Linked DNA regions of Homo sapiens: region 2 is linked to region 1. Evidence: fine-mapped expression QTL. A gene starts in region 1. The other region holds a variant in brackets. All regions are shown on one strand. Distances are from middle to middle. Region 1 holds the start of ZBTB6 (zinc finger and BTB domain containing 6). Region 2 overlaps RC3H2 (ring finger and CCCH-type domains 2).

What was found.
Region 2: its variant is fine-mapped to the expression of ZBTB6 in activated CD8 T cells (Schmiedel 2018, PIP 0.95).

Annotation. Positions count from the first base shown.
Region 1 is chr9:122,909,149-122,917,484 of GRCh38, forward strand. It overlaps ZBTB6 (zinc finger and BTB domain containing 6), which reads right to left and starts at 4,175. Exons shown (of 2, transcript NM_006626.6): 1 at 4,103-4,175; 2 at 1-2,933. The coding sequence starts at 2,924. The coding sequence ends at 1,650. It overlaps ZBTB26 (zinc finger and BTB domain containing 26), which reads right to left. Exons shown (of 2, transcript NM_020924.4): 2 at 6,418-8,336. RefSeq lists enhancers at 3,890-3,999, 4,010-4,239, 5,708-6,465.
Region 2 is chr9:122,865,974-122,874,309 of GRCh38, forward strand. The region is part of intron 9 of RC3H2 (ring finger and CCCH-type domains 2); the gene reads right to left. Among named protein-coding and RNA genes, the nearest start is that of SNORD90, 10 kb to the right of the region's middle. The variant AT/A (reference allele first, on the strand shown) is at 3,587.

The DNA.
Region 1 (8,336 bases):
AAGGTTAACACTTATAACAACGAACATGTGATTCATTCATCACACAATTTTTATAAATGGTACAAAGTATATTACATTTTAAAATACAGAAGGGCTTCAATAGAAATTAAATACAGTAGAAATTCTACATAAAGCTAAGTTAACTAGAGGAGGACTAGAACAGCTTCAAAGAAAGATGCATCTAGTCAGTCTTCTTTACGAAAAGCAGTTCCTGTGTTTTAGAGAATATTATTTGCCCTGCAGTATATTTTAATCTTTGTTAAAATAATTTATAAAAGTTTTGTGTTATATGTAGACGGAGATGTTAGAGAACTATGGCTCAGAACACCATCTCAAATATGACTCTCGCTAAAATAATCATACAGTCATAGTTTTCCTTTTGGCATATTTTTGGAAATATAAAACTCTAGGGATGGTTAAGATTTTTATCAACACATAGTGAATGGAAATTACATTAATGTAAATGAAAAAATACAACACTAATAGCTACACCTTTTTAAATTGCTCATCTAGTAACAGCTAGAATATATATTGCCAATTCAAAATTTAAAATGACATGGATGAACCTCAAAGTCATTATGCTGGGTGAAAAAGCATTTCAAGAGGGAACGTACTATAAGATTCTGTTTATATGACAGTCCAGAAAAGGCAAAATAATAGTGACGGAGAACTGTTGCCAGGATTAGAGCTAGAAGGAGCTGACTACAAAGGGACAGCATAAGAGAGCTATTGGGAGTGAAGGAACTGTTCTGTACCGACTGCAGTAGTGGTGCACAAATCTTTCTGTTAAAATTCACAGAACTATACACCAAGAAGAAATTTCAATTTTACTTCATGTTAAATAAAAAATAAAATAGAGAGGAACTTTTAAAACAGTAGAACAGATATCCCTGGTAAAGGTAGAATTTCTCATTTTTCACAGCTTCATGCCAATGGTATAATTTTACTGGCCACAAAATTATTAAATCCGATTGTATTAAATAAAATCAAGAAACTCGGGCCCAATGAACCATTTCTTAAGTATGTATACTAATAAGGCATGGAAATAAAAGTATTTTAAGGATTATTAACCCTGTATAAAAAAATTCTGCTATTCCCAAGTGAATCTGAATTGTTACTTTATACATTTTAAAATGAAAAGTATCTTGGTGTTTAGTTTGGAATCCAAGAACAGCTGGTAAAAAGTTAAAAAAAAATTTTTTTAGTGCCATCTGTTCTAAAGTGACTAGAAACAGGTAATAGTGTTTTTACCTTTATTTTCTCTTCTTGTTATCCTAATTCATTAAAGTTTTTATATGATTGGATTTTATACTTAAATCAATTACCTAGAGACTCCAAATCGGAATCTGCAAATACTGCTGGATCCTTTGTCACTAGAATCAAGAATATATAAGAGAGGAACACTATTTCTCTAGGGATACTACTGAGACTTATATGTAAGGTATGAGATGAGACAGAATCCCATCAGCTTTACTGTGCCTCCCATAACTTTGGAACTGTTAGAAGTTCAGAAAGAATGATTATGTGTAAGCCGACAAAATATAAGAAACAAAGATTGGGGGGATGAAATATTACAAATGCTGCATCTCTACAGAAAGACTTGCGTAATAGAATAATACAAACTTTATATAACAAGTCTGTGATTATAATTATAGTAGACTTTGCCTTTTGAGATCAGGCCTAGATAGTTTTTCACCACTGCTTCTGCCATGGACAGAGGTTAAGTGCTTTTTGAGAGCAGACTTGTGCTTGAAATCCATATCACAACAGTGGCATTTGTATGGCCGATCCCCACTGTGTATGTTCAAGTGGTCCTGAAGTGTGCTTTTGGCAGTAAATGTCTTCAAGCACACAGTACACTGAAAGGGCCGTATGCCCATGTGTCCTCGGATGTGTCGGTTGAGATTTTTCTTCTGTGTAAATGTTTTTCCGCACTGTAAGCATAAGAATAGTTTATGCATTTTAAGGTGGCGCAGATAGTTTTCAACATGAAGAAAGCCTCGAGGACACCTGGGGCACTGGTGCCTCAGTGAATAACCTTCCTCCAGATTCTGAATCTCACTCACTGTACCATAACTTCCTTCAGTATTCTCACAAAATAAGCCCTGATCTTGATTCCCAGGAACTTCAGCCACTCTGCTCTCAACTGTAGAATTGATCAATGAATGCTGTGTTTCAGAGAAATACATGCTTGCTTTTGAAGAGGTACAAGGCTGTGAAAACTGCCCATTTTCGACACCAGCTGTACTGATGGATTCTACATGAAGGATACAAATTTCATTGTCTTTAAAACCTATGTCTACTGTAGACAGCTCTGGTGACTTCATTTCCTTTCTCTCTGATGTCAGACTCTCTACTGTAGACTGCAAAGCATTGCTTTCCTCTTCTTTAACATGGAAATCTATGTTTACAGGACTATCTTCTGAAATTTCAATTATCTCACAGTCTTTATCAGAATTTTCATCTTCATTCTTAACATCAGGATCAGAAGACTGACACAGGTCAGTGTGTTGGTTGTTGTTTTTCATAGAAAGATCAATTTCCAGATACTTTGACAAAGCTTCTGTGCACTTTTCCACAATGTGAACCATCTGAAGGTAACTGGCAGCAGTCAAGTATTTCAAAAGCTCTTTCCTTTTAACTTCAAGTGCTCCAGTATAGCAAGACAGTAACAATTTTCTGCCAACTTCTGCACTCTGTAAGATGGTGATTCTGACATGTTTTGACTGTGTGAGTAAAAACTGATCTCTCATAAAAGTGGAGCAAGCAGCCAAAATCACCTTGTGCCCCTGGAACTCAGTGTCATTAATGTAAATTGATACATCACAAAATAAATTCTGCTGTCTCAAAAGATTCATTTTCTGCAAGACCACATCTCCTTGCTGTTCAAACTGGAAATGCAGAACATCAGACTCAGCAGCCATGATCACAATCTAAGCAAAATAAAACACAAACATTGATGTAATAAGGATAGGGAATGCTTTCCCATGCTGTAATGGTGAAAACAAACGAAAAACCCCAAACCTGAATTAGGAAGAAGAAGACTCAAAGTCTAATGTAGGTGTTATGAACCTTTATGCCACCATCTCAAAACGAGAACTTTATAATGCACTTCTCTATGATCTCATAGCACATTTTTCATAACTTTGTTACAACATTCATTACAATGAATTGTAGTGAACAGTTTCTAGCTTGTTTCTTTTGCTAAATGTTGTGTGCCTTGTGGTCAAGAACAATCTATCAATTTTGAATATCCAATATAAGCACTGTGACCACCAAAAAGTTGATTTAACATAATATATCCAATTAGCAACTTTAACGTAATCTCCAAACTTCCTACTCCCCACCACTACAACAGGTCCTCCTTCCGGTTCACCTGGACAACTGCAATGTCTTCCAACAGGTCTTCTTTATACCACACTCTTCTGTATGCCAGATTACCCGCCTGAGTGCCACCAGGATTAACAACCCTTATTTTATTTTATTTTTAATTTCCCTTTTCTGCTTTAAATCTTCTATCGTTCTTCTCTACCTCCGGGACAGTCCAGATTTCTTAGGAAAGAATACGAGACCCATCACGATTTGGCTCTAACCCATCTTTATGGCTTTATCACCTTCTATTCTCTTTTTCATACTCGAACCTCGTTCAATACTAAATTTTTCCATCATTACCCAGACAAAAAGACACGAATACACATTTCTTACATTCGCGTTTCCAGTTCCTTTTTTCAGCTAGTGATTAGGCTCCTTTAAGCCCAAATCAAGTAAAACTAATATGACTCCACCTCCCGTTTCAACCAGAGAGAGTCAGCTGCTCTCTGAGCACCGCGAGATGGTGCCTGATGCATCTGTGTTCCTGCACCGAGCTCAGGGGCCCACACAGAGCAGGAGGAGCTCAGGGAACATCTGCTGAACTGAAACCGGATGCCAGGTTCAGCACACAGGTATTCTGGAGGCAACCCTGCGAAGGGCCAAGGCCCTGTCGGCCCAGTGGTTGCAGCACAAGATTAGCCACTCCGGGGCCGAGCCCAGCTGTCCTCCTCCTCCTCCTCCTCTTCCTCAGGCACCCTCCACCTGAGGAATCTACTTTGCACTCACTCACCGACTCAGAAAACTAGAGTCAAGGATTCCGCGGCAGCGTCTGCCCAAGCCGGAAGATGGACTTAGCCTGGAAGAAAACACATCCGGTGCCAACCAGCTTTATTCTTTACTGGGGCCCTCTAGGCGCCCCGGAAGGACATTCTGAGACGGTCTTCCTTCCTCACTTCCCCCCTCTTGGAATGACAGAAAGGCTCCTGAATGCCGGCAAGCCCCATCTCTCTTGTCCCAGTTTCGGCACTCGAGCCGTTTTCCCCCACCATCCCTTTTTTTTTTTAAGACGGAGTTTCGCTCTTGTTGCCCAGGCTGGAGTGCAATGGCGCGATTTCGGCTCACTGCAACCTTCGCCTCCCGGGTTCAAGCGACTCTCGCTCCGCAGCCTCCCAAGTAGCTGAGATTACAGGCGCCCGCCACCACGCCCGGCTCATTTTTGTATTTTTAGTAGAGACGGGGTTTCACCATGTTGGCTAGGCTGGTATCGAACTCCTGACCTCAGGAGATCCGCCCGCCTCGGCCTCCCTAAATGCTGGGATTACCGGGTTGAGCCACCGCGCCCAGCCGAGCCATTTCCTTTTGTGAGTCCTCCTGAACATCCGAATTGGAGACGGGGTTTGAGGTTCGGTTACGGCACGTCTGTCAGAGTAACCAGACCTTTTATGGATTATTCTGGGACGATTCCTCTCCTTATTGGGGCCACCTACAACTTGAAAGGTGGCAGAGCAGAAACTATCATAAAGATCCGTATTCGAGATTGCCTAGATAATGCCCCATCAGGAGATGGCCCCAACCTCTGGATCTAGCTTCACACTTAAATGCGTTCCTCCATCCCAAAACTTTTGGCCCAGCTGTTTCCTCTGACGTGCCCTAGCCTTTTCCCCAGGCTTTTTTTTTTTTTTTTTGAGACGGAGTCTCTCTCTGTCGCCCAGGCTGGAGTGCAGCGGCAGGATCTCGGCTCACTGCAAGCTCCGCCTCCTGGGTTCACGCCATTCTCCTGCCTCAGCCTCCCGAGTAAGCTGGGACTTCAGGTGCCCGCCACTTCGCCTGGCTAATTTTTTTTTTTTTGTATTTTTAGTAGAGACGGGGTTTCACCGTGTTAGCCAGGATGGTCTCGATCTCCTGACCTCGTGATCCGCCCGCCTTGGCCTCCCAAAGTGCTGGGATTACAGGCGTGAGCCACCGAGCCCGGCCTTCCCCAACGTATCTTTAAAGAACCCGTTTATAAATCTCATCATCCTGAAGCCATCCTGAACTGCCCTAAGATAATTGGTTCCCAGTTTGAAACCTGTAATCCCTTTTCCTGCCTTCATTATTGCACTTAACACGCCTGTATTAATTTGTGCCTCATCTAGGCAGAGTTATTTAGGACAGTGGCTTACTGATCTTTGTATTCTCGAAGTCTAGCACTTGGTAGGCATCAAGTATTTGTGCTGAATGAAGATATGACTGAAGAAATTCTTTTTCTTTTTTTTTTGAGACAGAGTCTCACTCTGTGGTCCAGGCTGGAGTGCAGTGGCACGATCTCGGCCTACCGCAACCTCCGCCTAGCAGGTTCAAGCAATTCTCCTGCCTCAGCCTCCCGAGTAGCTGGGATTACAGGTGCCTGCCACCACACCCAGCTACTTTTTGTATTTTTGGTAGAGACGGGGTTTCACCATGTTGGCCAGGCCGGTCTCGAACTCCTGACCTCAGGTGATCCACCCGCCTTGGCCTCCCAAAGTGCTGGGATTACAGGCATGAGCCGCCGCGCCCGGCCTCTGCACCAATTCTATTCCTTTTTTTTTTTTTTTTTTTTTTTTTTTGAGACAAAGTCTCGCTCTGTCGCCCAGACTGGAGTGCAGTGGTGCGATCTTGGCTCACTGCAAGCTCCGCCTCTCGGGTTCACGCCATTCTCCTGCCTCAGCCTCCCGAGTAGCTGGGACTAATGCCCTGCCACCAGGCCCGGCTAATTTTTTGTATTTTTAGTAGAGACGGGGTTTCACCGTGTTAGCCAGGATGGTCTCGATCTCCTGACCTTGTGATCCACCCGCCTCGGCCTCCCAAAGTGCTGGGATTACAGGCGTGAGCCACCGCGCCCGGCCGCCTCTGAACCAATTCTTAAAGGCAGTTGCTCTGCTCCTCCAGCAACAGGTTCTCGTGGAAGTAAATGAATCTAGTAACAACTTTCTGATTAATTCGTATTTTTTTCTGAAGGCAAGCTCAGCATGCTTAATATGTATTTTTAAGACTATACATAAAGAAGACCTTCCTGTATTCAAAGTAAAGCAATTAAAAAAGAATAGAAGGAGGGGAGAGTGAGAAAATAACCAATGACACCAGAGCTTTAATCGTCACACTTTTATTAAGGAAACTTCCCCATAATAAGTGAAGAGGTAGTTCATAGTATGTCTAACATACAACAGATTTAGAACAGCTATTCATGAGCTGAAATAAAATCTTCTGGGTTGTTTAGGACAGTATTTTAGAAGCAGTGACATTGGTCACCTTCCATTTATAGATCTGCTAATAAAGAAACTTAAATTAAAATCATATCTGATTTACCTCAGAGCCACTTCAGTTTGGAGTTTAGTATTAAATAATAAATAAATAACTGACAGAGTAATTTTTTTTTAAACCAAACTATGGTAGAGAGTCATCTCCTTTTTAGTTCTCCTGGGGATCCATAAAATACAAATGCTGAATGATAAAGGTTTTAAAAATCTTCCTCCTCTACAGAAATATGACTAGTTTTGAAAGTCATCTTCCTCTGTAAAATACTGGATATCAGTAACTTGACTTCTTTGCAATATAATCTAACAAACACGTATAAGCAAAGAAGGAGGAAAGTGAAGTTCCACAAAAATTAGAAAAATGTCTCACAGAAACAGAACACCTCTCCAGCCAAAAATGGAGGAGACTGTAAATCACTTCAGTGGTTTGCATTTTCAAAAGGTGAGAACTAAATGTTTTACTGATACAAAAGCACAAAGTTGCTGATTTTAACTGATCGAATACAGCAAGGCAGCTTTCTTTATTATTTCTAGTATAAAAGCAAATTGAGACTTTGTTTCACTAAGACCACATGAGACTATAAGCTCCATGAGGGCAGGGACTATATCAATCTTACCTTCATTATCCTCAGTATCTAGCATAGTGTCTAGCAACAGTAGGTGCTTAACTAATGTTTCTTGAACAACTGAATGAACCCAGAAATAGTCTCCAACCAAAGAGACCAATCTTATTTGAACCCGTGCCTTTTAGTCTTCAAACCAGTAACAAAAACAAGACATGAATGTGAGCAAACGAAGCACTCCAACTTGAAATTTCCCTGTGAAGAAATGATGTTGACAGAAAATACCAAAAAATGCTGTTTGGTTGACAGGGTAGAGTCTCACTATTGCATAGAATTGGTACTCTTTGGCTGGATCATGTAAAAATCACAATGCTAGGAAGCATCATTAGACCATATAATGAGTGATGTTAGGCATAAGGTACCTATTAGTCTTACCACTCAACTGTATTATCATTTTAAATATTTGAACAAAAGACAAAAATCATACTTCACATCTGACTCACATGATGATAATTTACATATGATAACAATGATACATGTAAACGTATCAAATATAACAATTGAAGATCCCCTCTGACTATGCAAGCCTAATTTTTCAAATCTGCATGCACTCTCATAGCTCAAAAATAAAAACAGAAAATCCTGATGGAAACTAATAAACAGTTTTCCACACAAAATCAACTTCGCATTTAGATTCTTCTCACATTATTCTTGCTTTTTCCCTCCCTAAACAAACCTAGCAAATCACTCACTTGGATGGGAAGAATATAATATTCATCTAACTAAAAAATAATTAATATAAATCCCTCTGCGATATTTTGTTGGCAAAATTCAGGTTGTCTCAGAAAGCCAACAGGGAGACACAAAGGGGAAACACAAACTAGGAGCTTTTTGCTAATGCATTATTCTTCATGTACTAAATCTTTTAAAGCCAAGGGATAGCGAGAAGAAGGAAGAAGATGCTAGCTCATATTTAGTTATACCTTGGTCAATATTGGCCAGGCCACCTCTTCAGGCTTTGGATACCCCAATTTAAAATGAAAGAGGTGGAGTAAATGACCTCTTAAGATTCTCTAAGGACTCTACTAATACTATTACCTAAATCTAACTCATGGGTGAGAAACAAATAAGACTTAGAATTTTAGGTCTGAAGTACAACATGTGTTTTAGGAAAAAGAGCTGTTTTGTT
Region 2 (8,336 bases), 43 kb before region 1:
CATTTGAAAATTTTGTATAACTAGAATATAAGGGATGTTATGTAAAAATGACAGGAACTGGCAACAAATTTGGTTGAGAACACAGAGTAAAGAGAAAAGGTATGCAAGAGCTGAAGCCATTTTCTGTTGTTACCAAACTGTAAAAGGATTATATAATTTAAAAAAATAATTTAAAAAACTCATTCTTAAACAAACATTACACAAAAATAGAAATTCTGTATTATAGTTCTCAGAATAGTTTATACCTAAAGTTAAAAACATTTGTATGAAAGATTTTTCTGATACTAAGTTTTGAGTTTTATTTATGGTGATCATTGGATATAATACTCTAATACACAAAAGGACTGGCAATTTGATTTTGGATTCCATTTAAGAAAATGTCTCCCTCTCCCCCTCCCCCTCCCCCCTCCCTCTCCCCACGGTCTCCCTCTCCCCACGGTCTCCCTCTCCCTCTCTTTCCACGGTCTCCCTCTGATGCCGAGCCGAAGCTGGACTGTACTGCTGCCATCTCGGCTCACTGCAACCTCCCTGCCTGATTCTCCTGCCTCAGCCTGCGGAGTGCCTGCGATTGCAGGCGCGCGCCGCCACGCCTGACTGGTTTTCTTATTTTTTTGGTGAAGACGGGGTTTCACTGTGTTGGCTGGGCTGGTCTCCAGCTCCTAGCCGCGAGTGATCCGCCAGCCTCGGCCTCCGGAGGTGCCGGGATTGCAGACGATGTCTGGTTCACTCAGTGCTCAGTGGTGCCCAGGCTGGAGTGCAGTGGTGTGATCTCAGCTCGCTACAACCTCCACCTCCCAGCCACCTGCCTTGGCCTCCCAAAGTGCTGAGATTGCAGCCTATGCCCGGCCGCCACCCCGTCTGGGAAGTGAGGAGCGTCTCTGCCTGGCCGCCTATCGTCTGGGACGTGAGGAGCCCCTCTGCCTGGCTGCCCAGTCTGGAAAGTGAGAAGCGTCTGCCCGGCCGCCATCCCATCTAGGAAGTGAGGAGCGTCTCTGCCCGGCCACCCATTGTCTGAGATGTGGGGAGCGCCTTTGCCCCACCGCCCCGTCTGGGATGTGAGGAGCGCCTCTGCCTGGCCGCGACCCCGTCTGGGAGGTGAGGAGCGTCTCTGCCCAGCCGCCCCGTCTGAGAAGGGAGGAGACCCTCCGCCCGGCAACCGCCCCGTCTGAGAAGTGAGGAGCCCCTCCGCCCGGCAGCCGGCCCATCTGAGAAGTGAGGAGCGTCTCCGCCCGGCAGCCACCCCGTCCGGGAGGGAGGTGGGGGGATCAGCCCCCCGCCCGGCCAGCCGCCCCGTCCGGGAGGGAGGTGGGGGGGTCAGCCCCCCGCCCGGCCAGCCGCCCCGTCCGGGAGGTGAGGGGCGCCTCTGCCCAGCCACCCCTACTGGGAAGTGAGGAGACCCTCTGCCCAGCCAGCCGCTCCGTCCGGGAGGGAGGTTGGGGGGTCAGCACCCCGCCCGGCCAGCCACCCCGTCCAGGAGGGAGGTGGGGGGGTCAGCCCCCCGCCCGGCCAGCCGCCCTGTCGGGGATGTGAGGGGCGCCTCTGCCCGGCCGCCTATCGTCTGGGACGTGAGGAGCCCCTCTGCCTGGCTGCCCAGTCTGGAAAGTGAGAAGCGTCTGCCCGGCCGCCATCCCATCTAGGAAGTGAGGAGCGTCTCTGCCCGGCCACCCATTGTCTGAGATGTGGGGAGCGCCTTTGCCCCACCGCCCCGTCTGGGATGTGAGGAGCGCCTCTGCCTGGCCGCGACCCCGTCTGGGAGGTGAGGAGCGTCTCTGCCCAGCCGCCCCGTCTGAGAAGGGAGGAGACCCTCCGCCCGGCAACCGCCCCGTCTGAGAAGTGAGGAGCCCCTCCGCCCGGCAGCCGGCCCATCTGAGAAGTGAGGAGCGTCTCCGCCCGGCAGCCACCCCGTCCGGGAGGGAGGTGGGGGGGTCAGCCCCCCGCCCAGCCAGCCGCCCCGTCCGGGAGGGAGGTGGGGGGGTCAGCCCCCCGCCCGGCCAGCCGCCCCGTCCGGGAGGTGAGGGGCGCCTCTGCCCAGCCACCCCTACTGGGAAGTGAGAAGCCCCTCTGCCCAGCCAGCCGCTCCGTCCGGGAGGGAGGTTGGGGGGTCAGCACCCCGCCCGGCCAGCCACCCCGTCCAGGAGGGAGGTGGGGGTGTCAGCCCCCCGCCCGGCCAGCCGCCCTGTCGGGGATGTGAGGGGCGCCTCTGCCCGGCCGCCCCTACTGGGAAGTGAGGAGCCCCTCTGCCCGGCCACCACCCCGTCTGGGAGGTGTACCCAACAGCTCATTGAGAACGGGCCATGATGACAATTGCGGTTTTGTGGAATAGAAAGGGGGCAAAGGTGGGGAAAAGATTGAGAAATCGGATGGTTGCCGTGTCTGTGTGGAAAGAAGTAGACATGGGAGACTTTTCATTTTGTTCTGTACTAAGAAAAATTCTTCTGCCTTGGGATCCTGTTGATCTGTGACCTTACCCCCAACCCTGTGCTCTCTGAAACATGTGCTGTGTCCACTCAGGGTTAAATGGATTAAGGGCGGTGCAAGATGTGCTTTGTTAAACAGATGCTTGAAGGCAGCATGCTCGTTAAGAGTCATCACCACTCCCTAATCTCAAGTACCCAGGGACACAAACGCTGCGGAAGGCCGCAGGGTCCTCTGCCTAGGAAAACCAGAGACCTCTGTTCACTTGTTTATCTGCTGACCTTCCCTCCACTATTGTCCTATGACCCTGCCAAATCCCCCTCTGTGAGAAACACCCAAGAATGATCAATAAAAAATAAATAAATAAATAAATAAATAAAAAGAAAATGTGTTTCTATGTATACACCAAAATTTCATTATAATATAATCCTTAACAATATTCCCTCCTATATGTGTGTGTGTGTGTGTGTGTGTGTGTGTGTGTGTGTGTGTGTGTGTGTGTATGTGTTTTTTTTTTTTTTTTTTGTGGGGGGGTTAAGTTCCACTCTTGTCGCCCAGGTTACAGTGCAATGGCGCGATCTCGGCTCACTGCAACCTCCGCCTCCTGGGTTCAAGTGATTCTTCTGCCTCAGCCTCCCAAGTAGCTGGGATTACAGGCACGTGCCTGCCACCACGCCTGGTTAACTTTTGTATTTTTAGTAGAGATGGGGTTTTGCCATGTTGGCCAGGCTGGTCTCAAAATCCTGACCTCAGGTGATCTGCCCACTTCGGCCTCCCAAAGTGCTGGGATTACGGGTGTGAGCCACCATGCCTGGCCCCTACAACATTTTTAAAGCGGTGAAAAATTAAGTTCACGAACAGAAAGAAGACTATACATATTTGGTGTCATAATTATATATGCCTAAAGTAATGTTATTAATGTTATATATAAACATATGGTAATTAAATATAAAGTGTTAGTAGTAAGCAATGCCTTCACAATAGTTTCCCTTTTAGTCCTCTGGTATCTATAAACAACTTCATTATTCAGTCCTTCTCTTCTCCTTCTCTTTAACATGTACACATTGGCAGAGGAAGGTGATGCTCAATAAAAGACAAGTGCTCCTAGATTAGACTGGCTAAAAGTGAAGTAACAGAATATTAAAAAAACAGGTGATGGCCAGTTTACACG[AT/A]TTTTTTTTTTTTTTTTTTTTGAGGCGGAGTTTTGCTCGTCACCCAGGCTGGAGTGCAATAGTGTGATCTCAGCTCACTGCAACCTCTGCTTCCCGGGTTCAAGCAATTCTCCTGCCTCAGCCTCTGGAGTACAGGTGCACATTATAGGCGCGCGCCTGCCAACACACCTGGCTAATTTTTGTATTTTTAGTAGAGATGGGGTTTCATCATGTTGGCCAAGCTGTTCTCAAACTCCTGACCTCAAGTGATCCGCCTGCCTTGGCCTCCCAAAGTGCTGGGATTATAGGCATAAGCCACTGTGCCTGGCCAACATCATCTTATAGATAAGAGGAAAACCAATAATTACTTCTTTCAAGAAGGGCATGAGCAGACCTATATTTCAGGAAGACAATCTGGTTGTCTGGAGGGGCCCAAAGATCCCTATGCCTTCCTCCACATTCTCTCTGAAACCTACTCTCATTATTCTTTTCCTCAGAGTTCCTATACAGAATATCGTGTCTCCTTGCTTTCCATCCTCAAAAAATAAAACTTGGCCGGGCATGGTGGCTCACACCTGTAATCCCAGCACCTTGGGAGGCTGAGGCGAGTGGATTACCTGAGGTCAGGAGTTCAAGACCAGCCTGGCCAACATGGTGAAACCCCGTCTCTATTAAAAATACAAAAATTAGCCAGAAGTGGTGGGACATGCCTGTAATCCCAGCTACTTGGGAGGCTGAAGCAGGAGAATTGCTTGAGCCTGGGAGACAGAGGTTGCAGTGAGCCGAGATTGTGCCACTGTACTCCAGCCTGGCCGACAGAGCAAGACTCTGTCTCCAAAAACAAACAAACAAACAAACAAACAAACAAACAAACAAAAAAAAAACAACAAACTGAGATAATCCACAAGGTTGCTCTAGAAAGCAAAAAATAAAGTTTTAACTATGAACCTCTCAAAAAAGAGTCAGGAGAAATAAAATCTTAACCAAGTGAGGTAAAGCAAGTGACAAGTAGGGATATACACTGAATTCTTAGTATTGGGGCAGCTAAAGGCTGCCTTTTCAGGGACAGGATCTCACTATGTTGCCTAGACTGCCTTAAATCCTAAATGCAAGTGATCCTCCCAGCTCTGCCTCCAGAGTAGCTGGGACTACAGGTGTGCACCACCATGCGTAACTCTCCCTATTCTTTTTAAATCCCTTCTTACCCATCTTAGAATCCACTATCTACCATTAATCCCTCCCTTGTAAATAATTTTTAACTCCCTTGATCCACTCCCTCTGTATCTCATTTGGTAAAAGCTCAATCCAATTCTTTACTTATTTTGTGCCTGCTACCAAGCAGCTAAATGTTGGAGAAAAATTGTGCAATCACGCTGTCTATAATCCCTTCAAAATTATAAATAATTCATTAATACGCTTCTTTACTAAGTTCATTTTCCCATCTCCAATAGCCTTTTCCCTTCCACTTTCAACCACCCCTCCTACAGCTAGATGATATTGTTTCCCACTTAACCACGAAAATAGATGAAAGCAGAGGAGAATAATTTATCTTTCCGCTACCAATTCCAGTAACCTTCCTGCACCTGTAGCCACATTCCTCTTAAAGATAAGGGACAATGAGTTCCTGTTCCTGACTAAAGCCAGTCTCACCACCTGTGGCCTAGGTCTCAAGCCCATTTGCCTTCCTCTAAGACTTCACTGAGGTAATTATCTTTTTTTCTCGTGGGCACCTTCTTTGACTACCTGCTCAAATGTTGTATCTTCTTTTTTTTTTTTGAGACGGAGTCTCGCTCTGTTGCCCAGGCTGGAGTGCAGTGGCGCAATCTCAGCTCACTGCAAGCTCCACCTCCCAGGTTCACGCCATTCTCCAGCCTCAGCCTCCCGAGGAGCTGGTACTACAGTTGCCCACCACCAGGCCCGGCTAATTTTTTCTGTTTTTAGTAGAGACGGGGTTTCACCGTGTTAGTGGGGGGGGGGGTTTCATCGTGTTAGCCAGGATAGTCCCGATCTCCTGACCTTGTGATCCGCCTGCCTCGGCCTCCCAAAGTGCTGGGATTACAGGCGTGAGCCACTGCGCCTGGCCAAATGTTGTATCTTCTAAGAGTCTTTCCTACACTATTCTATCTAAGAGATCTCCCCTTTCTCAATCACTCTTTTTCTCCTTTGTGTTTTTTTTTCATACTGCCTGTCATTACAAGATATTATGCTATATTTATTTATTTCATGTCTGTCTTCTTACTACAATGTAAGCCCCCGGAGGACAAGACTTTTGCCTTTCTTGCATCTCTCTATCTTTAGCACACAATACACTGTCTCATAACATCCCAAGTGCCCAATTATTATTATTATTTTAAAGGCAGAGTCTCCATCACCCAGGCAGGAGTGAGTCACCATGCCCAGCCAATTTTTTTTTTTTGTAGTAGAGACAAGGTCTTGCTATGTTGCCCAGGCTGGTCACAAACTCCTGAGCTCAAGTGATCTTCTTGCCTCAGCCTTTCAAAGTATTGGAATTACAGGCGTGAGCCACCTCACCCGGCCCCCAATTATTATTTGTTGCATTAATATAGAATAAGCTTCAAACATCATTATGGCCAAGAGAACCACTGATTTTCTGCCCTGATGCATTTCCCATTTCAGCAAGAGACCACTAAGTTATGCAGGCTCCATACCTTGGAGTCATCCTTGATTCCTCTCTTTTCTTTATAGCCCACATTCAATTGGTCCATGTTGTCAGCTCTACTTCCAAAATATATCCTAAGTATGACTACTTTTCATCATTTCCATTGCTATAGTCCTACCCGAGCTACCAAACTCCCACCTGTGGACCAATATAGAAGTTTAACTTGTCTCCATCCATGCAGACACCAGAGTGATATGTCTAAGACAAAATGAAAATTTCATCATTCCATTTAAATAAAACTCTAAAATGACTTCTTATTGCAAACAGAATAAAATCCAAATTCTTTGCTATGGCCAAAATTGCTTATTTACATGTTTACTGTTCCTCTTTTTCCATTAGAAACATCTTGAATAGTAACCAGTATATAATAATCTTTTATAACTTTTTTTTTTGAGACAAAGTCTCACTCTATCACCCAGGTTGGAGTGCAGTGGTGCTCACTGCAACCTCTACCTCCCAGGTTCACGCGATTCTCGTGCCTCAGCCTCCCCAGTAGCTGGGATTACAGGCGTGCACCACCATGCCCGGCTAATTTTTGTATTGTTAGTAGAGACAGAGTTTCCCCCATGCTGGCCAGGCTGGTCTCAAACTCCTGACCTCAAGTGATACACCAGCCTTGGCCTCCCAAAGTGCTGGGATTACAGGCATGAGCCACTGCTCCTGGCCACTATTTGTTGAGTTGGTTGATCCCTCGCTTTTGACACTCCCCAGAATGTAGCAATTCTTTGGAACATAACCCCAACATCCTAGTTCTAAAACATATCCACATATTTACATAATATTTATTCTACATATTTATTTTATGTTTACATATAATAAATATGTATTCTAAGAAGGGATTATTGAGCATCCACATTTTGTTTGGTTAGAGGGGTGTATAATAGAGAAAGAAAATATAGGTAAAATTAATTTATTTAAGTTGAACAAACATTTGCTGAATTTCTGGTGTTATGTGAACTAAGACAAACAGCCTATCCTCAAAAAGCTCAGAGTGAGGTAGCAATATGTATTTTTTAAACTGAAAGGACAGTCACATCACCTACTTTTCTAATCCTTTGTATTATCCCTGTTTGTTTAAACAGCAATAGAGTGTGAAGCTGGTTGGAAATAAGAAGTAAGAACTGTATATTATTTGCTCCTCCACATAAACATACTGAGTTTATGTTATCAGGTGTTTTCTAGATGCAGGAAATATAAAGATGAAGAACCCTTGCCAGGTGCCATGGCTCATGCCTGTAATCCTAGCACTTTGGGAGGCTGAGGTGGGCAGATTGAGCTCAGGAGTTCGAGACCAGCCTGGGCAACATGGTGAATCCCCATCTCTACAAAAAATATAAAAAAAATTTAGCCAGGCATGGTGGCGTGTGTCTGTGGTCCCAGCTACTCGAGAGGCTGAGGTGGGAGAATCCCCTGAGCCTGGGAGGCAGAAGTTGCAAGTGAGCCAAGATCATACCACTGCACTATAGAGTGAGGCCCTGTCTCCAGAAAAAAAAAAGATTAATAACCCATGAGATAAATGAAGTCCAGTGAAAACACACATGTAAATAAACAATTATAATACTGTAGTTTTATAACTATACCATAATTTTTATTTATTTATTTATATTTATTTTTTTGAGACGGAATCTTGCTCTGTCGTCCACACAGGAGTATAGTGGCGCCATCTCGGCTCACTGCAACCTCTGCCTCCCAAGTTCAAGCCATTCTCCCGCCTCAGCCTCCCGAGCAGCTGGGATTACAGGTGCTTGCCACCACACCCAGCTAACTATACCATAATTTTTAAACTACTATGTATGGAGTGCTATGGCAGCATGGTGAAGGATGCAATTAACACTGCCTAGGGAAGTCTGTGGAGGGAAGATAATATCTGAGTATGATTAGAAATAGTTATCCAGATAAAGAGGAGAGAGAAAATAATACAATATGGAATAAACAATATAGACAAGTGAAAAGAAGAGTAAAAGAAATTTATATAGTAATCAACAGTGATTAATTGAATATACCTTAAAAACAAAGTATACAAATGGCAGAGTAGAGCTAGAGGATAAAATCAGGATGAGATTCTGTGATGTACTGAGGAACTAATTAAG